4 linked regions of the Homo sapiens genome follow. The protein of the gene in region 3 interacts with the protein of the main gene of each other region in a pairwise test. Each region holds a gene or a part of one and is shown on either strand. Other genes may lie near its edges. The genes, in order: RBFOX1, CAMK1D, CFAP418 and SMARCAD1.

Region 1 (7,028 bases), on a different chromosome or scaffold from region 3:
AGCCGGACATGGTGGCGGGTGCCTGTAGTCCCAGCTACTCGGGAGACTGAGGCAGGAGAATGGCGTGAACCTGGGAGGTGGAGCTTGCAGTGAGCCGAGATCGCGCCACCGCACTCCAGCCTGGGCAACAGAGTGAGACCCCATCTCAAAAAAACAAAAACAAAAACAAAAACAAAACGTCAAAACTAGCCTCCAAATGAATGAGGTGGCAAGTAGCAAAGTTAGTCAGTGTTTTCTTTTATCACAGGAAATGTATCATGCTTCAAAGCCATAAACTCCTTCACAAATACTTGCTTTCCTGAGGTCTTGGGACAGGACGAAGAGGCAGAATTGCCTTACACTCAAAAAATGTTCCAGACGACAGGATTGGGGTTCCCAAGCTTCTAAAGAATTCTGCAGAAAAAGGTTCCCAAATGCATGTTCCATACAGGTTTTGTGGTATGCATGATTACTTTAGGTGGCACACAAATGAACATTATTTAATTTTATGATAAATATTTTCATTTAGAGTTATATTTGATTAATGATCAAAACACCAGTTTTCATTTACAGTGATGATAAAATGTTTCTGTTTACATGCCTGTTTCTAATCCATTTCATCATTTGTACGCAATAAAATTTACTCTTTATGGCGTATAAAGTCATGTAACCGTCACCATTAAGATACAGGACAGTTCCCTTATTCATCAAAATTCTCTCACCCTGCCTCTTTCTAGCCCCTGCCCTTTGGTCCAGCAATAAAAATGAAGAAACCAGGGACAAACACCGCAACCTGGATGAATCTCAAATGTATTAGGCTAAGGTAAAGAAGCGAGGTTCAGAGCTCTGAGGTATGAATGAGGAGTGGCTGCAAAGGGGCACAAGATTTGTATTTAGGCTGATGGAAATGTTCCGAAATTAGATGCATCCGGCAATCATCGCACAACTCCGTAAATATGCTAAAAATCAGTGAACTGTACACCTAAAAATATACTAATTTTAAGGTATGTAAATTATAATTCCACAAAGACTTTATTTTTGTTTATTTAGAGACAGAGTTTCACTCTGTGACCTAGGCTGGAGTTCAGTGGAGCAATCTTAGCTCACTGCAGCCTCAAACTCCTGGCCCCAAGCCATCCTCCCACCTCAGTCTCCCAAGTAGCTGGGACTACAGGCATGCACCATGACACTCAGCTAAATTTTAAATTTCTTGTAGAGATGAGGTCTCACTTTGTTGCCCAGGCTATTCTCGAACTCCTGTCTTCAAACGACTCTCCCATCTCGGCCTCCCAAAGTGCTGGGATCACAGGCATGAGCCACCACACCCAGCCTCCGTAAGACTTGAAGAAAAATTATCTTACATCAAATTTTTTTTTTCCAAAAAAATGAGATTTCATTGGGATGACATTCTAGAAAGGCAAAACTATAGGAATAGAAAATTGATAAATGTGCCCCTTTACAAATAAATGAAATTAATTAATAATCCGTTGATTTAAATGAACGCTAAGAATGAATGCATGGAAATGAGGTAAACTTCAGGAAGCTGGTATGATGAGGGTGGGCTTAGGGACTGATCTGTTTCCCAGAGTCCCTGGGTAGATGGGGGTGCACCCCCGCTGCCATTACCAGGGCTGGGGGCGCCTCCCCATAACCTCCCACCCGTAGCAAACACGTCCACTTACTGTGGCGGTGCCAGAGACGGTCTGAGCGCTCGTGTCCGCCGGGCTCTGCTCGGAGTGCGTCTGGGCGGGAGGGTACAGGTTTAATGTGTGCTCGGGAACCGTGGTCTGGCCTGTGTACTCTGGCGCGGGGTGGGGATGAGGGGCCGTGTATTCCGCGGGGATACCGTTCTGCGGGGGAGCAAACTGGGCCGAAGCGTAAGGCTGAGCCATTGTGTCAGGGGCAGCGGCTGCTTCCTGATTACCCTGAAAAATCAAAAAGGTGCAGAGAGGGAGAGAACGTCATGAGGAGCCACCATGCAGAAACCTTCCTCCCAGATCCCAGGACGATCGTGCCCCGCGTACTTTCTAGGGGTCACCATGGTGCCACCAGCCTGAGATGGACCAATCTCAGGTCATCTTCACCAGACCCTATAAGGAAACAGTAACCATCACTTCTCCCCATTTTACAGATGCAGAAACCGAGGCTTGGAAAGATAAAGATAAAGTCGCTTTTTCCAAGCCACCCAGCCTAATATTCAAAGACATGAGGGTCTGTGGCTTTACTAGATTGATTTTTTTTTTTTTTTGGCAGATCCTTTTTATTTCATTCCCATTTTGGAAGCTGTGAGCATTTAGTTGTCTGCAGTGACAGCAGAACCTTGATTTGATACTTAAAGTGCCAAGAGAGACTAAATTGAACGTGTGTGTTCTTGAGAGGAGAGACAATTTATGTAAGCATTTGAATTTAATCAAAGTTTTATGTGACTTGGCTCACATAATGGGAATAGGGAGTATCCTTTTAATGGTCCCAGTGTCTGTGTGGTTGTGTGTTATGTTGTGTGTGTGTGTGTGTGTGTGTCTGTGTGTGTGTATGCGTGTATGATGTCCCCAGTGCCAAAATGAAGCAGCTGATACAAATTCAGGGCCTAATTTGGACAAAGACTGTCCTCTCTGACATCCCCATTTTAAGCATTTCTGAAAAATATTGGATTTAACTCTCAGTCTCATTAGTCAATGCCTCTCCCTCCCTGCCTTATTTTTTTATGAGCACAGAGTATTATATAACAATTCATTCTTCAGATCTAGGCAAAACAGGCAGTGTGACAATTACAGCCAACTCAGAAGAATTTTAAAAACACACACAACAAAAACCTGAATACAAATGCTTCCATTTCAGGAAACAGCTCTCTCTCTTTACCTCCTCCTCCACAGTTCTACCACAACACACACACACACACACACACACACACACACACACACACACACACACACGGCATAAGAAATTGTAACCCAAAGGTCTAAACTTTCCATGGTCTCAGGAGATGGGATCACACAGTCAGAAAGACAGAGCGAGGAAAAAAACTTAGCAATTAGGCACACCAAATAGCTGCCTCTCCTATTGTCTGTGGTCAATTAGATGTGACTTTGGCCCTCATATAATGATACTAGGGCAAAAATATCAGAATTTCTCCTTATCTCTTCAGTACTTGCCACCAACATCCGAAATCCTCTTTCTCTAAAGCAATTTGAGTGCAGCAAAAACATGATGACAGAAAGAAGAGAGGAAAAAAAAAAAGTTTGTTCTCAGAGCAGCACACGGAGCTGGTGCATTTGTTTAGAAGGGACCTTAATTAGAATGTTAAAGATGACACTTGGAAGAGAACTAAGCTTAGGATAAGTTTAAACATTTTACAAGTAAATCATTCCCATCAGGCTCTTCCCTCCTCCAGACAAATTTCGCCAAATGTCTGTGCCACTGGAAACAAAAGGGCACGAGCATTTCTTTCTCTTTCTAACATTTTCCCATAGCACTGGGGCCATGGAGGGTGTGCCTATGTTGAGGCTGAGTTGCTATCCATGAGCAGTTAACCTTGTCCATCCTTGGGAAGCCAAAGAAGACATGCAGTGATACTGCTGGTCTGTCTCCACTCCTGTTTCTTCAACAAAGCCCCAGTTTCCTTTTGGGGGACAGTCCCACTTTCAGCCTGTATGGTGCAGATACAGTTGAACCCAGCTCCCAGTCGCTACGAGATGAGCCATAGGACATCAGCCTGGCCAATCAGATGGTCCCACTGAGATAGTCCCATGGATTTGCGTTCATGCACATCTATCTAGTGAGTCCGTTAGTGCGTTAAGCCCTAGTCACACCACTGAGTCCCAGTCACCCTGGGATTTTGCTGTAGTTTTGGGGAAGAAGTTCTCTTTCCACGGTGATGGGCAGCTGTAAAAACATCATAAGCCTGGAGCTGCCAAGAACTGACACTTAGGGTGGGCATGTTGCCTCATGCCTGTAATTCCAGCACTTTGGGAGGCCAAGGTGGGTGGATCACTTGAGGTCAGGAGTTCGAGACCAGACTGGGCAACATGGTGAAACCCTGCCTCTACTAAAAATACAAAAATTAGCCGGGCATGGTGGCACATGCCTGTAATCTTAGCTACTCCGGAGACTGAGGCAGGAGAACCACTTGAATGTGGGAGGTGGAAGTTGCAGTGAGCTGAGAGTGCACCACTGCACTCCAGCCTGGGCCACAGAGCAAGATTCCGTCTCAACAACAACAACAACAACAACAACAACGAACTGCCACTTGAAGGGGACCTCCCTACACGTGAGGCCAACCTAGAGGAAAATGAAGAGAAGAAACTGAGGAACAGAGAGGTTTCTACTGAGTCCCAGTGACGTCATTTGAAGTGTTGAATCCAGCTTTACCCGCAGTCAGCACCATCCCTGTTTGTTGTAGTTACACAAGTCAGTAAATGTCCCATATTTTAACAGCTTTACTAAGATACCATTAACATAAAAATTATACATGTAAGGTGTATAACTTGATGTTTTGACATATGTATACATTGTGAAGTGACCACATTCCAGGTAATTAGCATATCCATCACTTCTACATGATCTCCATTTGTGTGTGTGTGTGTGTGTGTGTGTATGTGTGTGTGGAGAGATTTAATTTAAGATCTATCCTCTTAGCACACTTCCAGTATATAATACAGTATTTTTAACTCTTGTTTCCATGCTGTACTTAAATCTCCAGAATGTATCTGTCTTGCAAAACTGACACTTTGTACCCTTTGTCTCATTTTTTAAGCTACTTTTTCTGTTACTTACAACCAAAAGGGTCTTGACTAATTAAAAAAAAAAAAAAACTTCTGCTGTTTTATAACTAAACTAGCATCTTTTCTTTTTCTGGGCTGTTCAAGGAACATATCCTTCTGTACAGAAATTTCATAGCGATGCCACTTCTCTATGGGTGATGAAAAGCCCCAGAAATGTTGGGATCTTGGGAATCATCTGATGAGAAATTCACTGTGCCAGAGGCAGCTTCTGCTCAAAGATCTGTTTCTGCCTCCCCAACCTTCTACCTGGCCCATCTCTGAAGTGAAAGGTAGACTTGTGTAAACTCTTACAGGGAAGCACAGAATAACCACATAAGCAGTGGTACAGACAATGATCATATGAAGACAAAGGTTTCCCTCCTCCACCTCCAGCAGAAGATACTTTCACCAGGAACATATATAACCCTGGGGCTTTTCATCAGTGCAGAGCAAGCTCAGGAAAAGTGGCCCATTCCTACTAGTTCTTGCAAAAGAGCTAAGGCTCCTTGTAGACTTCGAGCTATCTCTGTATTGAAGAGAGAAGGGTCATGCCTTCCAGAAGCTTATGGTCAGTTAAGGGAGAAGAGCTCCATCCTCTCAACCCCATCAAGTCTTCACATTTACTGCCCCTCAGCTTGGAAAGCCTCACCTACCCCCTTGCCCAACTAGTCCTTACTCTTCCTTCAGTCCGCATCAAGAGTCCCTCCTCCAGCAGGCTTTCCTTGATGCTGAAACCTGGTCAGTTGCCCATCCCCTCTGCTCCACTGCAGCTGGTGGCCACAGCTCACACAGCACCAAGCACTGCCACAGCCTGATTATTTGTCTGTGAGCTCCCTGAAAACAGGACACTGTGCCACATTCCCTGTCCCATCTCCATGGTCCAACAGCATACTAGCTGCAAAGTGGACATTTATAAATGTTTGCCAAGTGAATATGTGCTGGAAAAATGACCTCTGGGCTCTGTAAAGCCTAGTCTGGCAGCAGGAGATAGGGTAGGGGGATGAAGAGAGGACCTAGCAAACGACTCATGAGGCAAACCTGGCCCAAATTTTGTTTTTGTAAATAAAGTTTTATTGGAACACACCCATGCTCATTTGTTTACTGTCTGTAGCCGCTTTTGTACTACAAAGGCAGAGTTGGATAGCTGTGACAGAGACTGCCCAGCCCACCAAGACTGAATGATCTATCATCTGGTCCTTTGTGGAAAATGTTTTCTAATAGCTGTGGCAGAATGTCATTAGATATGGGATCACCAGTTAAGAAGCCATTATTGCATAAGTAGTTTGGGCAGGAAATAAAGCAGGCAGTGAAGTAGAAAGAGAGAGAAAGGGCCTGTATACTCTCCAAACCAAAGAGGGGTGATAGCTAGACTTGGAGACTGGCAATATTGAAAATGGTGCAAAAACAGTGGGTCAGAATCTTTTGGGGAATTTACTTTCCATCCGCAGATCTTTGACCTGTAAACTCACAGGCACACAGGCTTTAAATCTGCATAAGTGGGCTTATGAGCAGAAGGTTCATGATGGCCTCAGACTTCCATGAAAAGCAGCCCCTTCTCCTCACTGGTCCTCAGAAGAAAACCTAATAGGTGGCAGGCACTGTGCTGGGCGCCTCATACCGGTAGTTCTTACAGAGGTGTGATTGCTCCCCACAGGACATTAGGCAATGACTGGAGACAGTTTTGTCACAAATGAGGGAGGATGTGCTACTGCCATCTAGTGGGTGGAGGCCAGGAATGCTGCTAAACATCTTACAGAGTATACGACTACCTTGAACCACAAAAGACTGTCCCGCCCCAAATGTTAATAGTGCCAAGGTCCAGAATCCCTACTTTTCATGCAATGCATCTCTAATCTCAATTTACCTTGTCATCAAAGATGCTGCAGACCAAAGCTGGGAAATAATTATTCGAGGCCACAGTCACAGGTAGTTGTTAGGGAAGCCAAGAGTTAAACCAAGGCATTTCTCATCTAGCAAGAGAATCACCTGGTGGGGAGTTCACTTCATTCATTCATTCATTCATTCATTATTTTTATTTTTATTTTTTTGACACAGAGTTTTGCTCCTGTTACCCAAGCTGGAGTGCAATGGTAGGCTCTCGGCTCACTGCAACCTCCGCCTCCGAGGTTCAAGTGATTCTCCTGCCTCAGCCTCCTGAGTAGCTAGGATTACAGGCACCCGCCATGATGACTGGCTAATTTTTTGTATTTTTAGTAGAGACGGCGTTTTACTGTTGGCCAGGCTGGTCCCGAACTGCTGGCCTCAAGTGATCCATCTGCCTTGTCCTCC
Region 2 (7,028 bases), on a different chromosome or scaffold from region 3:
GACAGAGGAAATGAGCATCTGAAGGTGATTAATTGTCTTTATTGGAGGAAAACAGGAAGTCATCAATCTCATTATCATTATGATAGAAATCTTGATATGTATACATGATTGTCAAGGCAGAGAATCATTTGCTACATAGACCCATGAACAATTTTGCAGTGCCGCAAACCTATGTGGGTTAAACTTCTTGCAGAGTTTATTACATGCATGGAATAAATTCACAGTTTCCCTTCTTTTGGACAAACATGTTTTTATGGGAAAATTGAACCAATTGCAAGCCTGGTAATAGTAGATGCGGGGACATTCCTGGTTTTGATGTTGTAATTTTTTGGGAAGCATGCTCACTGTTGGGGGAGCTGAAAGAAGGGAGATTACATTATGTGTAGTGACAAAAGCCAATTGAGAGATTGTTCCAATGTTTATTCTGGACAGAGGGTACCTTTGAGGTCTTCTCACCTGAACGTGGGACTAAGATAAATGTTCTCTGAAACATGGCGCCCCATCTTTCGAAGCAAAGACTCTGCTGCATGCAATGTCGCTGCATTTCTGCCACCATTCGGACAGCATTTCATGTCCCTCTGATAGGGCCAAGTGCCCCGGGAAGGAGAGTGGCAGGTGTCAGGGCTGAGAGACAAACATCCGAGCTGATGTTCTTGTTCCTTTTTAGCTCTCTCGCAGCCTGGCTGCCAACCACGTCCCAGGGCCCCTGTGCCCTGAAGTGCAGGGCTTCCAGGAGAGCCTGGGAATCTGAATCTGTCTAGATTAAGATTTTCCTCCGAGAAGCAATTTAACTAGAGTTTGGGGTTTCTGAGCCCCTGCTGAAGTCTTATCTCTAAGAGTAAAACCAACTCCTCCTCATTTTCTTTTTTCCTGTCCATAAGAAAATAAAATCACCTTTAAAATAACATGGCAAATCATCAGAAGACATAATAATCGAATGAGAAGTTCCCCGGAGACAAAAAGGTTAAAAAACGGATATGGCGAATGCAGAAGCGGTGTTATAGTACAAAGGGTGAATGCAACCGTTTGTCCCTTTATACAGACACCGAGAAGCCATTCCACAGTTTGCTTTGTCCACAAAACCAGACTCGGCAGCCGCATGCTGAGCGTTTGGCTTCCAAATGCACAGCCTTTTTGGGTTTGCAAAAGCGGAGCTCCCAGAGCCACAAACTGAGCTGCTCCTGCTGGAGGTGGCGGGGAAGTCTGGGAAGGGCTGACTCCTTCCCACTGACTCTGGAGGCATCGGGAGGTGGCCGGGCCTCGGCCAGCATGCAGGACTGACTTCACAGTGGGGCTGGGGGCCCAGAGCTGCAGACCATGATGCCCCGGGACCACCGAACAGGTGCCAGGTGAGTGGGGCGTGGGCCCTTATCTTCCTCAGACCGCCTGCCTGCTCCCCAGAGTTGAGGTTGTCAAGCTAACTCATCTGCACACTCATTTTCTTGGAGTCTTCAGGAAAGAAACCCTCCTTTTAGGAGTCTGTTTGAGCTTTTCTATCTCCACATTTTCAATTCTGAACATCGAAAGACTGGAATATCTTTTGCAAATGTCAGGCACACCTGCAGCCCCAACCGAGGACCAGGTGCCCCTCAAAAGGGTGGTGGATCACATACAGGTATATACATCTTTTTTTTTTTTTTTTTTTTTTAACAAACTGAACAGTGTTTGGTCTGGAATGTGTTTAAGGAAAAGGCAAAGTTCGCAGAGTGTGGGTAGACAGAATAGGGAAGAAGTACAGTTTCAGAAGAACATGCAAAGGTTTCGTGCACTGGCTGAATTCAAGGACCTTCAATTAATTTGCCAGAAGTGATTGTGCAAACCTGGGAAAGAGGACATCTTACTTCTGTTTATGAAAAACGGGAGGAGCTTCCCTTTGCCCGCACTTGCCTTCCTTTCTCATATCCAAAGGAATCCCAGTCGTGTGCTTGTTAAATTCTGCGAAGCAGCGAGGGCTCTGGCTGAAGCTGCGGCAGTGGCCCTACTTCCACCTTCAGCCCTAGAGCAATGGTTCCAGCGTGGCCTCCCCAACGCGAAGACTCAATTCTGGCCAAGGTTCTGGGGGAGAGGGAGAGGTGAGGGGCCACGATGCTTTCAAAAATAAAGTCTACCTGCACTGGGATATCATCTTTCCTTTCTGTTTAAAAATGCTCATAAAATAGCAAGCCCCAGTGGGTTAATCAGGTTAAGCTGTCATTCCACAGGGGAGAGGATCAATCCACTTTCCAAAGGGGATCACCTGGGCTCCCCCCATTCCCCCCACCCCGTGTGCCTGGTGTTCTCGGCTTCTGTCCCTCCCACCTACGATTCATCCAGGGCATGATGGACACTAGGGTAGACAGATGAGTGGGATGAGTACGGGGTAGGTAAACCGAGTCCGGGGCTCCCTAGGCCAGATTCCTTTCATCCTACTACAGATATTTCCTATGAGCCCAGCCTTGGCCAGCATGGCCATCTTTTTTGAGACGGAGTCTTGCTCTGTCACCCAGGCTGGAGTGCAGTGGCACGATCTCGGCTCACTGCAACCTCTGCCTCCCGGGTTCAAGCGATTCTCCTGCCTCAGCCTCCCGAGTAGCTGGGATTACAGGCACGCACCACCATGCCCAGCTAATTTTTGTATTTTTAGTAGAAACAGGGTTTCACCATGTTGGCCAGAATGGTCTTGATCTCTTGACCTTGTGATCTGCCCGCCTCGCTCTCCCAAAGCGCTGGGATTACAGGCGTGAGCCACTGCGCCCTGTCCACTGTCCATCTTCTTTTGCTCGCTCTATCCTGACTGCCGGGGCCCTGGACACTACACAAAGAGCTAGCTGGAGAGTGAGACTCTCTCAAAGGCCAGCGGTGGCTCAGAGACTCTACACCGTTCTCAAGGTCAGATGCTAGAAGTGACCAGAATTGTGGCCATGGTCAAGAACGCAAAGCCACTCTTCCTTTTTTTAACTTTGTATGGCACGCTTTGCCATAGCTCTTTTCTTTTAAAAGAAGACCTGAAGGGGTAGAATGTTTTCTAGTCTCCGACAGAGGCAGGGGTAGGAGGAACTGGTGAAAATCAGCCACTGTGCACTGCCAGAGCCGTGCATGGTCCTGGGGGTTGCCATTTCTCTAACACAGCAAACCCCGTCTCTCCTCAAGGGCTTTGGTGGTCATTGAGCTTCTCCTAGGTGTGCCCTGCGCCTCTGCACCACTTCATTCTGAGGCTCCGGACCCGTGTGCCCGCTGGGAAGCAGAGCCGTAGAGAGGCAGACAGCTGCCCAGACTCCAGACTCCAAGGCCACCTCTGTGAAAAGGGCCAAGCTGCTGGCCTGTTGGTGCCCGCTCACTGTTTGTCTCAATGAATAGAAACTCCTCCTATTGCCTCACGTATGAGATGAAGATCCGGGAAGCCAGGGAGCCCAGACAGGCAGCTGAGGGAAAGGCCACTCCAGGCCACTACTTCAACATTGAATACTCCAAGTGAGGAAAAGAGAATCCACTTGCTCTGAGAAGGGATAGTGACCAAATGGGGGACTTGGGCTCAGGAAGGAAGCCTGTGATGGGGTCTACGCGTCCACCCTTAGCCTCAGCCCAGCACCCTGGGTGCATGTAGAAATGCTCAGCCTCTACAGGTGGACTCTGACCTTGGTGCGGGTCCTAGGACTCTGAGACCCCATTTGTCAGACCTTCACGAAAGGCACATTCTAGGTTCTCTTCCTGTTTTATAAGAAAACAAATCATACCAAGCGCAGTGCAAAGACAACCTCTTTTTAACATGAGAGCTCTCTCAAAAGCACAAGAGCGCCTCTCTTTCTCTGAAGCAATAGGAAATTAACCCAAGCCTGGTGGGATCAGGACAGTACAGGCTTCCTGATGTCATGCTCAACAGTTGACTCTTGGGCTGAAACCAGTCACTGTCTCCTCGCACGATGTTGTTGAGACCCGGCGTGTGACAGGCCAAGCATGGCCAAGAACTGACCCGAACAGCGAGGGGGGCACCTGCACCACGGCTCACCTTTCAGAGGTTCTGCACTTTTTGGGTGAGGGATACTTTCAAACTAAGTGCATATAACATGCACCACATGTATCTGCTCCTGAAAATACTTCAATCACCAGTAATGGAACTCAGCTTCAAATGCTGCTTTCTGAATGCAAATGGTTGTATATAGCACACAGCACAAAGGGCTATTCATCACTATTCATGTACTCATCCTAGGTACCAGATTCGGGTGCATTTTCAGCGCTTGCAGCCTTCTATTACTTTGTCATGCACTGTATGAACTCGAATGTTTCCAAGACACTTCTTAGTAAGCAACCGCCTAGTTCTCCAATACTGCTTATAATATTCATTCATTGCATGGCCAACTCAGGTGACACTTGCTTCTTAACTGGGTCTAATGTCATCTTATAGACCTTTCCAGGGTTTTTAGATTTTGCAGAGTGACAGCTTGATTTTTCACCCTGTGAGCATGCGTGGCAGATGCCATGCAGAATTCCTGCCAAGCAGTGGAGTGCCTGTGAAGTGTGCGGGGACAGGGTAGACCAGCTGCCTGTCTTCCCAACTGCTCTTCTCTGTGCCTGCACTGCCATTCTCAGGGAGCAGGATGGAGCTGCTGTGCCTAATAACATTGTGTGTGTGTGTGTGTGTGTGTGTGTGTGTGTGTGTGTTTATTGAGAGGGTGGGGGGGCATCACTCAACATTCAGCCTGTACATACTCAAAGGTGTAGAAGTGACAAAGATGACTCAACCAACAGGACTTCCCATGACTGGCCAGCCAGAGGAAGAGGGCATGAGGACACAGCCAGCAGCGTTACTGGGTCGTGATGACGCAGACCTGCCGGGACACCCCCGTGGGCTCGAGGCATTGGATGGGCCTGAGAGCTGAAGCAGGGGCACTTGCAGGAATGGCACTTGAAGCCACCTGCCTGGCTTTACAGGGCAGCCTCCTGGAAGCCTCCATGAAACGCAGCTTTCCCTGGGCCACACACTGCCTGGCTCCACAAAGGCGAACAACACAGCCTGCTTTGCCCCGGATATTCCTGGTTTTGGCATTAAATGTCCACAGCCTGAGAAATCCTTCAGTCTCGGGCAAATGGGACGTTTGGTGACCCTACCACCATGTATCTTTGATTTTAGACTCCCCTGACCAATGGGAGGGCTGCAAGCACTGGCTGGGCCTGGCGGAGGTGGTCTTTGGTCATCTCTGTGGTGGCTGAAGTCCCATTAGCCTGGCAGGGCCCCCTCTCCTTACCACCAGAAATGGATCCTTTCCCAAGGCTGCTTCCCTCCCTTCCTTCCCTTGGAAAACATTCATGTGAGAAGAGGGTAAAAATGTGGAGAAAGAACTTTGTGTTGGAGGCCACGTGAAGTGTAAGATTAGAAATGCATTTTTTTAAAAACCACAGAGAAAGAGATGAATTTTAACACTGCATAGCTGAGCTTTCATCTGTTAGCTCTCGTGAGAAATGAGGGTTGTGTGTGGGCCCACTTTCAGCAACATGGCAGCTGGTTCCTTTTGCAAGGGAGGGTCCTGCATCTCTGCAGTGTGGGCATCTCACTCACAGCAAGTCTGGCCTGTGAAGCTGAGCCCTGCGTCTCGGGGGAGCAGGCTTATTTCTGGTTGCTGATGGCAAGAGGCCTCTAGGGTCTCTGGTGGGTGTGGGTTCTGCTGGATGGGTTGCCAGCAAAGGCTCTGTGCAGATTCTCTACCAAAGTCCCCCGCAGAGAAGAGAGCCTCGCAGAACTGAGGGGCCCCTCCTCCTGGGGAAGGGGAGAGAAACAGAAGGAGTAGAGGTGAAGGGCACTCTTAGCCTTGGAGACAGATTCATGATCCTCTTGTTAGAATTTTTTTTTTTTTTTTTGAGACAGAGTCTTGCTCTGTCACCCAGGCTGGAGTGCAGTGGCACGATCTCAGCTCACTGCAACCTCCGTCTCCCGGGTTCAAGCAATTCTCCTGCCTCAGCCTCCCGAGTAGCCGGGACTACAGGTGTGTGCCACCACGCCCGGCTAATTTTTTGTATTTTTAGTAGACGTGGGGTTTCACCATGTTGGCCAGGATGGCCTTGATCTCCTGACCTTGTGATCCGCCCGACTTGGCCTCCCAACGTGCTGGGATTACAGGCATGAGTCATTGCACCCGGCTGATCCTCTTATTAGAATTTTAAAAAATACCTTTAAATTCTCCTTTGAGGAAAAACAAATCTCTTAAAGGTTAACATAAAACTACTATTAAAGAGGAAAAGATATAGGTCATGTAACTTAGAGATACAAAGGACATACTTCTTAAAAGGAAAAACAAACCCTAATGCACAATATTTACCAATATTTAAATAATCCAGTTGAAACCTTTTTTTTTTTGTCATTAATGAAAAAACACACCATAGACGGTTACCTACACTGAGAAGAGTGGAAACGATGGTGTTAGGGGAGAGGAATAAGAAGGTCCGTTCAGTTAGAGCTTTGCAAGATTCGTATATACAGCACCAGATCCTATGAAATCAGCGCCCCTCGAGTCAGTACAGTTTGTGAGAAATGAACACTTCAGAATTGCAGTAGAAAATATGGCCATAAAAAAACTTCGGTCTTCCAGTCCTATGCAGGAAGGGGCACCATGCAAGGTGGGGTCTCGCTGGAGTGGCTCGCGGCTCTGGCGACCCTGGGGCTCCCCTTCCCCAGCCCCGACCCCGGGCCCCACCTCCAGGGCCAGTCACTTGCTTCCAGAGTGCACTGCCGTCACAGTGGTGGGCCTGGGTCTCCGCTCGGCTCCAACTCCTGAGACCCCCGACGAAGAAGAAATGAAACTACAGAGCGTGGAAGGTGCCAGACCTGCAGGGAACAGCAGAAGTGGGCTTCAGAGTTTCAGAGGTAAATTCTCACCCTGCTTCCCACTGCCAGGTGTCAGAGGGGCTGGGTTTATGGTGGGGGGCGGGGGGGCCCAATTTTTTTTTTTTCTTGAGATGGAGTTTCACTCTTTTCACCAGGCTGGAGTGCAGTGGCACGATCTCGGGTCACTGCAACCTCTGCCTGCCAGGTTCAAGCGATTCTCGTGCTTCAGCCT
Region 3 (7,028 bases):
GATTATCTGTTTTTCAGGTATGTTGCTAAAGAACTTCACTCTGAAAAAAGTACCAAGTAGTTTATATTTCCTATTTTGATATATTCTCTCTGGGTGGATTCAGCCAGATCTTGTGGGCTTCACCTCTTCAGTATAGTCATGTGCTGCGTTATGATGCTTCAGTCAACGATGGACTGCATATATATATATACATGGTGGTTCCATAAGATTATGACGGAGTTGAAAAATTCCTATCACCTAGTGACATCATAGCCTTTGTAATATTATACTGCAATGCATTGCACATGTTTGTGGTGATGCTGGTATAAACAGTAACATGCTGTAGAGGTTTGTAGCCTTGGAACAGTAGCCTATACCATATAGCCTAGGTGTGTGGTAGGCTATACCATCTAGGTTTGTATAAATTCACTCTTTGATATTCCCACAATGATGGAATTGCCTAACAAAGCATAAGCAATGCATGACTGTGTTTCTGTCATCCATCTCCTTCTCTCCATCTGCCTGCTGTCAGCCTAGATAAGGACATGTTACTTCTGGACAAGAATACAGAAGTAACCTCCTCACTGGTTTTTCTGGCTACAATCTCTTCTCTCAGACCATCCTTCCCTTGTTCAGAATTAAAGCATAGCTCAGAGTATACCGTCCTCCTGCTCAACACCCTTCCACTTACAGAATAATGTCCAAATTCCTTAGCATGGCATTCATGACCCTCCATAATCCAGCTCCCATCCATCCATCATCCAGCTTTGTCTTCCCACAATGTATATTTCACCTTTGCAAGATTTTAGCTACATCAGAGTACTCAAGGCTCCCATTCCCTCTGACTTTGTACAACCTCTTTACCTCTTGGGATGCCTTCCCACCATTTTATCTACCTAAACCCTACCTGTCCTTCAGAGTATAATTCATCACATGTCTTCCATGATTCTTTCACCACTCTCTCAACTGGAAGAAAACTCTTCCCTTCCTGTGTATTCACGGTGCTTTGGACCTATTATATACTGTAATATAAAACTGAAGCTCTTAGGTTGGTGTATGACTACCTCCCTCCTTGTGGCTGAGATAATGTCTTGCTCATATTTATATAATTTGTACATTCTTATACACTTACAGAATACCTACTATCTTTAAGGTGTTACAAGTTATAAAAATATATTTGAACTTTACATTGACATTTTCAAATAAAAATTTAAAGCTAAAAATTAATACAGTGTAATATTGCAGCACTTTTCAATAGCATAAAGAAAAGGGTAAGAGACTTTCCCCTACGCCTTTTTTGGCAGCCATTCTTGGGTAAATCTATGAGTATACCCTAATTTAATAGTTTTTAAACTTTTTCACATCAAGAACCACTTTGCAAATCTTATGAAAGCTTTGAATGCCCCTCATACACATACAATTCAAATATAAAAATACATGGAAAAATTATAACTTGAAAAATTTTACAGTTTCCAACCCAAATAAAGCCTAATGTACTCCCAAAATCTGAGGTTAGGAACCCATACTTTTAGGCTTAGCCCACTTTTTACCCCATAAGTGGAAAAGTTGGCTTTTAATTACAGGTTGACTTTCCCTTTTCTGACTTTTCTAAACCCTCTGCTATTTACTGTCTACTAGTTAATCTAATAAGTGGTTAATAATCCCCATATGTCACCAAGATGAAGCATGAATTTTTATAAAACTATCATAGGATAATAAAATGCATGTAACATCAAGGCAGTGGTGAACACAGGCATAAAGTAAACTATGGATAACCTAGTCGGTACTTGAGGAACTTGCAGCATCTCAGAGTTATCAAGAACACCAGTTGGTTTACCCTAGATCTGTGGCAGCCTGGTTTAAAAAATATATGTACTTTTAGATAAAACAGTGACAACTAGAGGATTTATTATACTATTAAAAATAAACAAGTAGTCATTATTTAAATCAGTAGAAAATACTGTCTCAGTTCTCAAGACACTTAGGAATATGTTTGGGAGATAAGAGAATGGAACAGCTAAAGAATAAGGCGGTCTCCACCATTAGGATATAAATCACTGATAGATTTATTTTGTACAATATATTGGTGTTTACCAGTAGACATTATTCAGCACCTAGTCTATGACACTCTTAGATACTGGGCTCATAAGATGAGAGGAACCCAGGGGAAGGGAGACATGGGTGGGGACAAGCATGTGAGCAGCAAGGTCATAGAGACAATAGGGTCAAGAGCACTGATGGGAGGTGAGCCTTGGATAGGAAAAGGAAGACCTCTGTGACTGAGAGGAAGCCAGCAAGGTACTGATGTGTTCAGGGTGAGCTTGCCAGGAAATTGAAGGCTTTCATACCTGGCGACCTGGTTTTGAGAATGAAGATGTGATCTGCTGAAAATAAGGGAGTGGAGGAGGATGTGGAATAATCACTGAGGAAACCAGAAGTGGACAGTGACCAAAGACAAGTTAAATGTTACACAGTGGAATGCTGTGCAGTTGTTTTATTGTCCTATTTTACAGATGAGAGAAATAAATGTATCCTATCTTTGAGAAGTTTTAGAACTTTTTTTTTTTTTCTGAGCCAATCTTGCAAACCCTGTTACCCAGGCTAGAGTGCAGGACTGCAGTTTCAGCTCACTGCAACCTCCACTTCCCAGATTGAAAGGATCCTTCGGCCTCAGCCTCTCGAGCAGCTAGGAATACAGGTGCGCACTACCACATCCAGCTAATTTTGTAGAGATGGGGTCTCACCATGTTGCCCATGCTGGTCTCGAACTCCTGAGCTCAAGTGGTCCACCCACCTTGGCTCCCCAAAGTGCAGGGATTACAGGCATGACCCACCACACCCAGACAAGTTTTAGAACATTGTAAAAGAAGTGTCAGCTATACTTACTGACCACCTTGCCACAACAGCTGAAGAAAATGCTTTTATTTTTCTATTAAATCGTGTTTTCTTTAAGAATGGAATGATTTTTCCCTAAGCTTTTAAGATACGTGCATTTTAAAAACCATTTCAAATGTCATAATTAGATCCCTGCCTATTCATGATTCCTAATCCTAAAATCGCTAAGGATTCAGTCAAGTATCAAATGTTAAGTTTTCAAAATATTTTGCAGATCAAATAAAGGACATTTTTCCTCAACAACTTAGTTTTGGCGGGGTTTTTTTCTTTCTGTTAAAATTTAGATTATTCATTTCTTCCCTTAGCTAAGTCGTTTAGCTAGTCAGTCTGTTTCCTGAAGTCAGACAGTTGGCTTGGAAAATCTGTCAGGTTTTGTGAGGTTCTAACCTTCTAAATTGTGCCTGAATTTCGTACAGTTTAATACTGAATATGGTGCCCATTGACCACCAGAGGGCACTTTGTAGCCTGCCTTCTGTTGCAGTGATATCCACAAGCAATGGTTAGGTACCGTATCTCTTTTTCTGGTATTCATACTGTATTTCGTCCTTTCACTTTGTATTTTTTCATCTTTTTTAAAAATTTTTTCTACTTTTCTTTGCCATGGAATGTTTATATGAACTCATTACATGGATTATCATGAAATCATAATTGATGTTTTTATTAATTAAACTTCTGTAGTCTTTTTTATAATAGTATGAAATCCAGTGTTTATCATTTTTACGATGGCCCTACTTGTTGATTTAATTATTTCAACATTATTAATATTTATTTCAGGATAGACATTTTTGTTGCTGATAGTATGAATAAACAGATCATTGAAGCTAATGAAAATTTTCTATAGTTAATTCATCAGAAACCTATGATCTTTATGCCTCTAATGTTCTCTCAACTTGCCATATTACAGGCTTTTAAAATATGGCATAGGTGAGTATCTGAGGTAGGAAATGAACCACCATCCTTTCCACCCTATTTTCATATTATTTCATCTCTGATAGGGCGTTTGTAATTCTTCAGCCTTTAGGTTATTGTGTTCTTCAACATTCAATAAACTGGCCTAGAGGATTGCCATAAAAAGTACAGATTATCAAAGAAATACCATCAGAAAGAGAACACTGAAGCATATCTTCTAGTGTTAGTGTGAGGGGATCTAGGTTGTTTAGTGTTCAGATACGGGGAAGATAAGAAAATAGGCTGGGCACCATGGTTCATGCCTGCAATCTCAGCACTTTGGGAGGCTGAGGTGGATGGATCACTTGAGCCCAGGAGTTTGAGATCAACCTGGACAACATACTGAGACCTCATCTCTACAAAAAAAAATTTTTTAAGCCGGGCATAGTGGCACATGCCTGTGGTCTCAGCTACTTGGAAGGCTGAGGGGAAGCCTGGGAGGTCAAGGCTGCAGTGAGCCATGATTGTGCCACCGCAATCCAGCCTGAGTAACAATGAGACTCCTAAAAACAAAAAAAGAAAAGAAAAGAAAGCAATGACCTTTTTTTTTTTTTTTAATCATTAAGCACTGAACAAAGCCACTATGCTAAAACTTTCCTGTTTTACTAATAGGAACAACATGCCAGAATTTCACAAATTAAAAGCAAAGTTGATAAAGAAGAAAGGAACACGGGCATATGCCTGCCAGTGTAGCTGGAGAACTATTGAAGAAGTGACTGACCTTCAGACAGATCATCAGCTTCGCTGGGTTTGTGGTAAACATTAAGAATGCAGACTGCACATTCGGACAGATGCATCCATGAGAGTGGTCTCCATGAATCATCATCATGTTTAGACAATAGTCCCTAGCAATACCATTCCCTGTGGGAAAAGGCAGTGAATTTTATTGATACAACTACATACATTTTTGAAGACCAAATGGACTAAGGAAGATCATGTATTATAACACTTTGGAATTATTCCTGATACATGGATGTTTCACTTAGTAACAGGCATCTACATTCTTTACTAATCTGTCTTCTGTTTAATAGAGGTTTGATTATGGAGTTCCATACAAATATCTAGTTTTTCATTAGCAACTGCAATATTGATTGCTAATACGTTTAGCAAATCATTCCCCAACTTGTAGCAGTTAAAGTGGATAAAGCCGGCCAGGGCAAAGAGATCATTTAGGGGTGTCTACAACACTTCTTCCAGTCAGATCTTTTGTTGCCAAAGATCATAATTTGGACATGGCAGAAACCAGGTGATCAGTGGCTGACTGAAGGGTGTTCAGAAGTAGTTACAGGTATTTTGCAAAAACACTGCCTCATAGCTGATCTTACCTCATCAACTCAAAGCAATGTTATGCACAATATTAAATACATGTTACCAGTTTTAGCTTATTTTTCCCTCTTTTGTTCATTTAACTATCAAAAGTTATTTTCTATTTTGATTACCCAATAATATATAAAAAGAGTTTGATGCACCCAAAATCACAAAAATCCTAATACATACAGGTTATTGTTGGATTTTCCAAGTACTTTCTATCCTTTAATGCCTAAAACTCCATCAAGGGAAGTAAACAGCAAGTAATATAATTTTTCAGGCAGCCTGTGGACTTCTCTGGTAGGATCAGGTTGACATATCGTTTATTAGGTGAGTAAGTGAAAAGACAAGTAAAGCATAACTGAACCAACAGGTAACCTGTTGGGCTCCTTCCTGACATCACTGAGATCTGAGGAGCCCTACAATAGCAGCACATTCAGGAAATCAGGTCCCTCAAAATTTCTAGCTCCCAACCCCATTGAGAGATTTTGGGAGCTTTCCAATCTGCCACAAACTCCCTGCTACATATGTACTATATAGTTCAAATGTGTGATACAGAGCACCCTGAAAGGGAATAATTGAAACAAAGTTATAATCTTCTTAGTCTTATGCTAAATTTATTCCAGCCACCCTACTGAAGGGAGGAAGATCTGATCATTAGAATCCTTTTCCTAGCCATGACACATTTACATACTTGTAAAATTTATTGTAGTAAGTCTAGCATTGCAACAGAATAGATCTTATAATGGCCAATCCTCACACTTTTGTATTAAGGATATTATGACAGACTAAGCATGGTAGCTCACGCCTGTAATCCCAGCACTTTGGGAGGCTGAGGCAGGCAGATCAGCTGAGGTCAGGAGTTCAAGACCAGCCTGGCCAACATGATAAAACACCATCTCTACTAAAAATACAAAAATTAGCTGGGCGCGGTGGTGCATGCCTGTAATCCCAACTACTCGGGAGGCCGAGGCAGGAAAATTTATTGAACCTGGGAGGCAGAGGTTGTAGTGAGCCAAGGTCGCGCCACTGCGCTCCAGCCTGGACAACACAGTGAGACTCTGTCTCAAAAAAAAAAAAAAGACATTATGACAGATTTTATCTTTTAATAAAAATGTATTATATCCCTAAAGTTATATCTATATGTAATTGAGTCAGAAACCTAGGGGGATGTCGATTGAAGTCGACTGCTGGAAAAAAATAGCAGAGCAACAAGATCCACACATTTAGAACCTCATAGAATTTGACACATTATTCATAATGGTGCAATTCTTTCTTTTTTATTCCAGTAAGCAAATTTACTAAATCACTAATTTGAAAAAAAAAATTTTTTTTTTGAGATGGAGTGTCACTCTGTTGCCGGGCTGGAGTGCAGTGGCACGATCTCTGCTCACTGCAACCTCCGCCTCGCAGCTTCAAGTGATTGTCCTGCCTCAGCCTCCCCAGTAGCTGGGATTACAGGCACACACCACCACGCCCAGCTAATTTTTGTATTTTTAATAGAGACAGGGTTTCACCATGTTGGCCAGAATGATGTCGATCTCCTGAACTCGTGATCCGCCCGCCTCAGCCTCCCAAAGTAGCCTACATTGCCTCTACTTTGAAGGGACAAAGTTGTCCTGGTTTTTTTTTCCCTTTTATTATTTCATTATAACTATCCTAAAACTTACATACATTGCCTATGTTTGGCATTCCATAACATAATAATTATAATAATCCCCCAATGTCAGAAATGTATGTGTGAGTTCCCATGTTTATTGGCAATTTATAAGCTTTTTAATATTGTACTATTTTAAACTAAAATGTAGAAAGAATATTATGTTTATATACAGTCAGATAAATTATTAACTGTTGTAATTTAAGCTGAAAATGAAACTATTTTAGTATCAGTATAGAAG
Region 4 (7,028 bases), on a different chromosome or scaffold from region 3:
TATAGCCATCCTCCATCACTTCTTCACCACTACTATAGTCCTCATCTAGTGAACTACCGACATCAGAACCTGAATCATATTCAGAGTCTTCAACAACTCTCTTTGGATTAAAAACATTTTTTTTACGTTTCTTGTTAAAGCCATTTTGTGCTTTCATTGAAAATTTCTGTTTTAGTTTTGTTTTAGTTGCATTTTTAGGGTAATTTTGACTTCTTGAAGAAACTTCTTTTCCATTTGGAACCTCACTTTGTGATACATATTGCATATCTGTATATAAAAGACAAAAACAGTAACTAAATTAGAAATACATAAATATAAAGATAGACTTCAAATAAAAACTTAAAACATTTACCTATTCCTATTGAATACAGAAGAATTCAACGACAATTTATTGTTAAATTTGATACACTTTAAAAATACTTAAGTAGAATTTGAAGTTAAACAATTGTTTCAAAAGCAGGTGATAACTTGTTTTTAAAATGAATTAAATATAAATCTCTGTTTTCTAACAAAGGTCCTGAGAACACAAATGGCAGCTGCGTATCTGTATGATGTCTCAGATATTCCTAGCAGCCCCACTCAACTATGCCAACACTGAAGAATATAGCAGAATGATGCTTACACTACTATAAAGCTTACTAATAAAAAGTGTGTATGTTTCAACTATCCATAATTTTCCAATACTATCTTCAATATTCTAAGTTGCATCGTTACTTAAAAAATTATTCAAATAGGCTGGGCATGGTGGCTCACGCCTGTAATCCCAGCACTTTGGGAGGCCGACGCGGGCAGATCACAAGGTCAGGAGTTCGAGACCAGCCTGACCAACATGGTGAAACCCTGTCTCTACTAAAAATATAAAAATTAGCCAGGCATGGTGGTGCATGCCTGTAATCCCAGCTACTCAGAAGGCTGAGGCAGGAGAATCGCTTGAACCTGGGAGGTGGAGGTTGCAGTTAGCCGAGACTGTGCCACTGCACTCCAGCCTGGGCGACAGAGCAAGACTCCGTCTCAAAAAAAATAAAAAATAAAAAAAATTATTCAAATACAGTATTATCAAAAAGCCCCACTACTTTATCACTGATTATCAGTTTACAGAATTCTAAGATGCCTGTGAATGAAGGTAACACCATTATTTTATGTACCAGTGAGAAAACATGCACCAATCTATAATACAATACTTTATTCAGAAATTTTTACTTACTCAGAAAGCTATTAGACTTACACAGATTATCATACCTTTATTTTTGTGCATTTATAAAAAATAAGCAAAATGAATTGGCTAAAGTATTCCTCAAATGTTTTCACATTCATAACATGGCTCTTCTGACTCATTTTTCAAACTCATATTTGGTGGCTTTCTTTTTGCCACAGAATATCATTTTCTGTGCCATCAACAGTATTGGTAGTATAGCCTTTTAAAACAATTTATTAAAAACAAACAAACAAAAAAACCCAAACCAAAACACCAAAAGCTACCATGCTGGGTTTGCAATTATGAAGAGCTAGTCTACTTGATTCTTCCTTAGGTATGTTACTAAACATGTATGACTCAACTCTTCCTTACCACCTCTCCTCTATCATTTGGTTCCTAGAATTAAGAGTGTTCCAAAATGTGTTCATGCCTATGATACCCTTAAGTTTTTGATGCTAGTGCTTTTGATATCTGTGCAAGTATAGGCTAAGACATCTACATTACAGTAATGACATGATATCACCAATCACAAGATCCATCCTGACAGTTGTTAAAAAGGTTATTTTACACTCAATAAAACATGGCAATTTAAAAGTAGCCTTAACTATTAAGAAAGACTGAACAAATAGAAAAAGATATTTATTGTTTTGTTTTACACTATGATAAAGAACAGGCAGGTCAAAACATTTAAAAACTGGTTGTTAAAGAATGTTTTTACATCATTACTTTCAACATCTTTTGCAATCCCACCCTCTGATTAACAGCTAATAGCTTTTCTTATATACCATTTTCTTATATACTAAAATACAGACTATAATGAGAAGTATGTATTTTCTATGACCCAGAATAATTACCTTGGTCTTCTGCAAACACTTTTAGAGATTCTAAAGCTTCTGTGTACATCCATTCATGTTCCTTGAGTACTTCTCTAAGTTCCTAGAAATAAGTCATTTATCTTTTTGTTAAAAATCTCAAATTAGCAACTTGCAGAAAACGTCTATGCTCTTTTAAAAATAAGTTAATCACCTGAAAACAGAGAATTCACATCTGATTATTTTGCACTTGTTTTTACACTGCTTTACAAATGCTTTCTGTGTAATTTCACCTCCACAAATACACAATAGTCTTCAAAGGAAAGAAAACTTGACATTTTTTTGCATTTCTAATGCTCACTATGAAGTACTGTGAACACTAGAGGATCAAGAAATGTTTTCTCAATTAAAAATGAAATTTCAATATGCAGCTAGGCTTTTACAAACTGCTAACTTCAAAACGTAGTTTCAACAAAGGTAAAGAACCAATATTGCAACAAGATTTTGCATTCAGCTCATCAGAATTTAGTAGATGTACTATCTGAACATATATACTCAAATAAATCAGTGCAAGTGTAAATGTACTCTAAATGCTAAACAAATATGTGCTTCTATATATGATCATGGGATTAAACAGAGGGCCTTTTAGCAACAGGATGCGTGGCATGAGTCTTTTTTTTTAATGACTCTGAAAACATTCTCACTATCTGGGAAGTAGTAGAAAGCTTATAAAATATTAAGACACTGAAATGGAATACTTTTTAAATTCTTGTAAGAAATTTCAAGAATGAGAACATGAAAAAAACTAAGCAGTTACTTGATGGGGGCAGGGTTACAGATGACTTTCTAGATGACTTACATGTTATAAATGAGTTCACAATTTTTATTACGGTTATTTTTTAATGACTTAGGGATACAGTATAGATACTATAGTAAACAAGGTAAATAAACAACATAAATAAACAGTATGAAAATACTTTATAACATTGATAAAAGGAGAACATTTAATTAGAAGAATACAAAACTCACCCTAAGCTTTTATGTGGTTGAACTCTTAACACTATTTTATAATAAAAACACTTAGTACACACTGATTAAATTTTCATACACGACTACTCACCTGTTTATCAAAATTGGGAAATTCCTTTTGCAATTTCAGTACAATACTTTCCTGCTTTTCCCAATTACTGCTAGATTCTGCAGACTCATTTGATTCCTCTCCCTAATGGGGAGAAAAAAAAAAGAAAACAATTTAAGAGATATCAATAACAATGGTCTTAAGGCAATTATCATTGTATTTTGACTTGATCTGAAAATTATCATCATCAGTCAGAAGAATCCAAACTGTTTCTTTTTGTTTCTGTGAACATTGACATATTTATGTCTTTAAGGATGAAAAATATTGCTGACTTAAGATCACTGAAAGACCCTGATTGCATATCCGGTAACTCAAACTTTATTCTCAGTGCTTAAAATGAGATAAATCTCCTAAAAAACTAGAATGATCCTCAAATTAACTCAATATAATTCAAGTATACTGATGCCTTCTCCAAGACAACGGTAAATTTTAAAAGGATACAAATATCTCATCTATGTTCACTATTATATATCCACCTATAAATTTCAAATTCTGAGAAGAGTTTACTTTTACTTCACTCTTGATTCACAGAATGGCTTAAATATTAATTGTTCAGTCACAACATAAAACTGAAACAATGATAAAAGGAATTTAAGTGGAACTAAATAATGTATAAACCGAACAGATTAATTAATATGAGAATTGTGGCTATACATAGTCTCACTTTTCCTTCTTCTCTGTCACTTAACTTCACTTGAAGAAACTGGTTAAAGTCCACATTTAAGCAAAAAGAAAAGACTCCTTGTGTTCATGCATAGGAAAAATTTTAGTCAATCAAAAAGCATTTTTCTACTCTGCTTAGAACTGCACCACATGCTATACACACAAGATGGAGAAAAATACAATCTTCTTCTTCAACCTCCTTTATTATCCAACAACTGAATTGCTATTTTTCTCTTTCAGTACCTTAGATAGAAATAACTAAATTCTGATACCTCCTCTGCACAATGGAGTAAAATAAAATTTCATAAAACAGAGACCAATAAAATGCTATGGATATCTGGACTAAAGAAGAAAATTGCATGTGTTTCATAATACTAAGTGGTCTACTTGGGCTCAAATGCAGAGAATGTTAATAGGTTACAAGGATGAAGAATTAAACCAGAGCTAACATGGAATAAAGCCTAAGGTTAGTCTTTTTTAAGAAGCAACAGGATTTTGAGCAGGGGAATAATAAGACATACTGGTGAAACCCATCTGGAGAAACCATTTCAAAATCTTCAAAATTCATACTGCCACCTTTACAGCCCAGGCACACTGAAATTCCAAGAACAGTATTTTAAAGCTCACAGATGGACAACAACCAGCTGAGGAGGGAACAGATCCAAGTATCTAACTCTAGACCACTGCTTTTTCACTACATAAGTGAAAACTAAACTTCAGTTGTTCATTTGTTAATATATCAAATGTGCGTCATGGACAAATTGTGGTAAACACATAAAATGGAATATCACTAAGTCATAAAAAAGAATGAAGTACTGATACACACCACAACATGAATGAACATTGTAGTATATCTGAAAGCATTATGCTATGTAAGAGGCTAATAAAAAAGAACAAAATCATGTTCTTCGCAGCAACACAGATGTAGCTGGAAACCATTTCCTAAGCAAGCTAATGTGGAATCAGAAAAATCAAATACCACATTTCCCACTTATAAATGGGAGCTAAACATTGGGTACACGTGTTCATAAAAATGAGAACAACAGACACTGGGGAACACAAGAAGGCGGAGGGAGGATGTGGGGGAAGAGTTAAGGAAAACTACCTATGGAGTACTATCCTTACTATCTGGGTGACAGATTCATTCATACTTCAAACTTCAGCATCACGCAATATACGTTTGTAACAAACTTGCACATGTACCCCAATTCTAACATAAAGTTGAAAAAAGAAAAAACAAATAAAACACATTTTTCTGAAATTAAAAAATAAGAGGCTAGACATAAAAGGTTACATATTATATAATTCCACCTAAATGAAATGTTCAGAATAGGTAAATCCAGAGACTGAAGGCAGATTGGCGGTTGCCAGGGGTTAGGGGGAGGAGGGAATGGGGAGAAACTGCTTAATGGGTATAGCATGCTATTACGAGGTGATGACAGCGTTTGGAACTAGACAGGAATGATGGTATACAACACTGTGAATGTACTAAATAGCATTAAATAGTTCACTCTAAAATGGTTAATTTTATGCTATGTGAATTTCACCTCAATAAAAAAATACATAAAATATCTGGAAAACAGTAAACAGCTCTTCGGAATCAAATATTTAGTAGATGGTGTGCCTATCATGTGTTGTTTGCTCTTGGGTCCCACACTTATGCCAGCTCTGCTTATCCCTGGTGACTGAATATACTCATGTGGTCCAGGAGGTTACACAGACACTTTACAAAAGCTAGCTGATAAAATTTGGGACTGTATCTGTCTCAGCGGGCCCAAGGGATATGATTCGACCCAGTGCTTATTTTTCCATCTCCAGAATCATAGTTGGAACAGACATATTTGGCACTGGCAGAAATCCCATACTATATCAGTTCCCTGACCCATGATGTATGGGCTACTATTATAGGAAACACCAAATCCAAGTCCCTAGAATTGTCCCTCTCAATCAAAACAATAAGCAATTACTACAGTCCTAAAGGAACTGCAGATATTGACACCACCATCCCATCCCAATGTAAGATGCCTCCTTGACCTATACAAAAAGTAGATGAGTCTTGCAAGTATTTAAGAGTATCATAAACAATCAAACTCCAGCTGCAGCTGCTTTACAGGATGTGGTATTTTTGCTGGAGCAAATCAATATGGCTATGCAGTTATCAATCAAGTACTTGCTTTTTCCCCTTTCCCAATTAGATCAAACAGAAACAATCCGTTTTTATCTTGGCAGGTTTAATGATATACCTTCAGTCTTCAGAGTTAGAGTAACTTTCCTGGCTCTCTCAAATAATACAGTACTCATGGACTTAGATGGTTTTGCACAGTCTAGAGAGTATCACTTGATCCACTATACTGACATCATGTTGACTGGACTTGATACAGGTAGTGGGTATTTTCAATGGTACTGGTCAGATACGTACATGCCACATATCAGGGTGAAGGAATAACCATCCTCACTCTGAGGCCCACCACTTTCGTGGGAGTGTAGTCTGGAGCATGTTGCAAACTCCACTCTTAAGAAAAAAGAAAGGCCGCACCTATCTGCCTCTTTAGACTGGACATTGGGAGCTCACTGCACACTGGAGGCAAGATATACTTCATTAGGGTGTGTACTGCTTGATTCATTTTATAAAATACCTCTTAAGATTGTCAGTTATGGCTGGGCACGCTGGCTCACGCTTGTAATCCCAGCACTCTGGGAGGCTGAGGCGGGTGGATCACGAGGTCAGGAGTTTGAGACCAGCCTGGCCAACACAGTGAAACACCGTTTCTACTAAAAATACAAAAAATTAGCCAGGCGTGGTGGCAGGCACCTGTAATCCCAGCTACTCGGGAGGCTGAGGTGGGAGAATTGCTTGAACCCGGGAGGCGGAGGTTGCGGTGAGCCAGGATCATGCCATTGCACTCCAGCCCAGACAACAGTGCGAGACTCCATCTCAAAAGAAAAAAAAAAAAAAAAGAATGTCAGTTATGAATGGGGCCCAGGTTAAGAGACGGCTCTGTACCAGGTCCAGAGTGCAATACAAGGTACTCCGCCACTTGGGTTTCGTGACCAGCAGATGCAATGATTCTCCAAGAATCTGTTGCAGGTAAGGATGTTGTATGAAGTCTTTGGCAAGCCCCAGTGGGAAAATCGTTTTAGAGAGTTTTAAAGAAAGGTCATCATGTCCTCTTCTACTGACCACAGTCAGTTTTGCTGTGACACATATATTTCCAAAAAT

Evidence for each region.
Region 1: the proteins of CFAP418 (region 3) and RBFOX1 interact in a two-hybrid assay, tested with the Homo sapiens proteins (one study listed by IntAct).
Region 2: the proteins of CFAP418 (region 3) and CAMK1D interact in a two-hybrid assay, tested with the Homo sapiens proteins (one study listed by IntAct).
Region 4: the proteins of CFAP418 (region 3) and SMARCAD1 interact in a two-hybrid assay, tested with the Homo sapiens proteins (one study listed by IntAct).

Annotation. Positions count from the first base shown.
Region 1 is NC_000016.10:7,513,023-7,520,050, reverse strand, and holds part of RBFOX1 (RNA binding protein fox-1 homolog 1), read right to left. Parts: intron 1,905-7,028; coding exon 1,662-1,904; intron 1-1,661. UniProt on the Homo sapiens protein: RNA-binding protein that regulates alternative splicing events by binding to 5'-UGCAUGU-3' elements. Regulates alternative splicing of tissue-specific exons and of differentially spliced exons during erythropoiesis.
Region 2 is NC_000010.11:12,828,537-12,835,564, reverse strand, and holds the end of CAMK1D (calcium/calmodulin-dependent protein kinase type 1D), read right to left. Parts: intron 6,797-7,028; coding exon 6,678-6,796; 3' UTR 20-6,677; downstream 1-19. UniProt on the Homo sapiens protein: Calcium/calmodulin-dependent protein kinase that operates in the calcium-triggered CaMKK-CaMK1 signaling cascade and, upon calcium influx, activates CREB-dependent gene transcription, regulates calcium-mediated granulocyte function and respiratory burst and promotes basal dendritic growth of hippocampal neurons.
Region 3 is NC_000008.11:95,245,177-95,252,204, reverse strand, and holds part of CFAP418 (cilia- and flagella-associated protein 418), read left to right. Parts: coding exon 1-17; intron 18-4,434; coding exon 4,435-4,588; 3' UTR 4,589-7,028. UniProt on the Homo sapiens protein: May be involved in photoreceptor outer segment disk morphogenesis.
Region 4 is NC_000004.12:94,245,855-94,252,882, reverse strand, and holds part of SMARCAD1 (SWI/SNF-related matrix-associated actin-dependent regulator of chromatin subfamily A containing DEAD/H box 1), read right to left. Parts: exon of another isoform or gene 4,330-7,028; intron 3,230-4,329; coding exon 3,128-3,229; intron 2,222-3,127; exon of another isoform or gene 2,132-2,221; coding exon 2,050-2,131; intron 268-2,049; coding exon 1-267. UniProt on the Homo sapiens protein: DNA helicase that possesses intrinsic ATP-dependent nucleosome-remodeling activity and is both required for DNA repair and heterochromatin organization.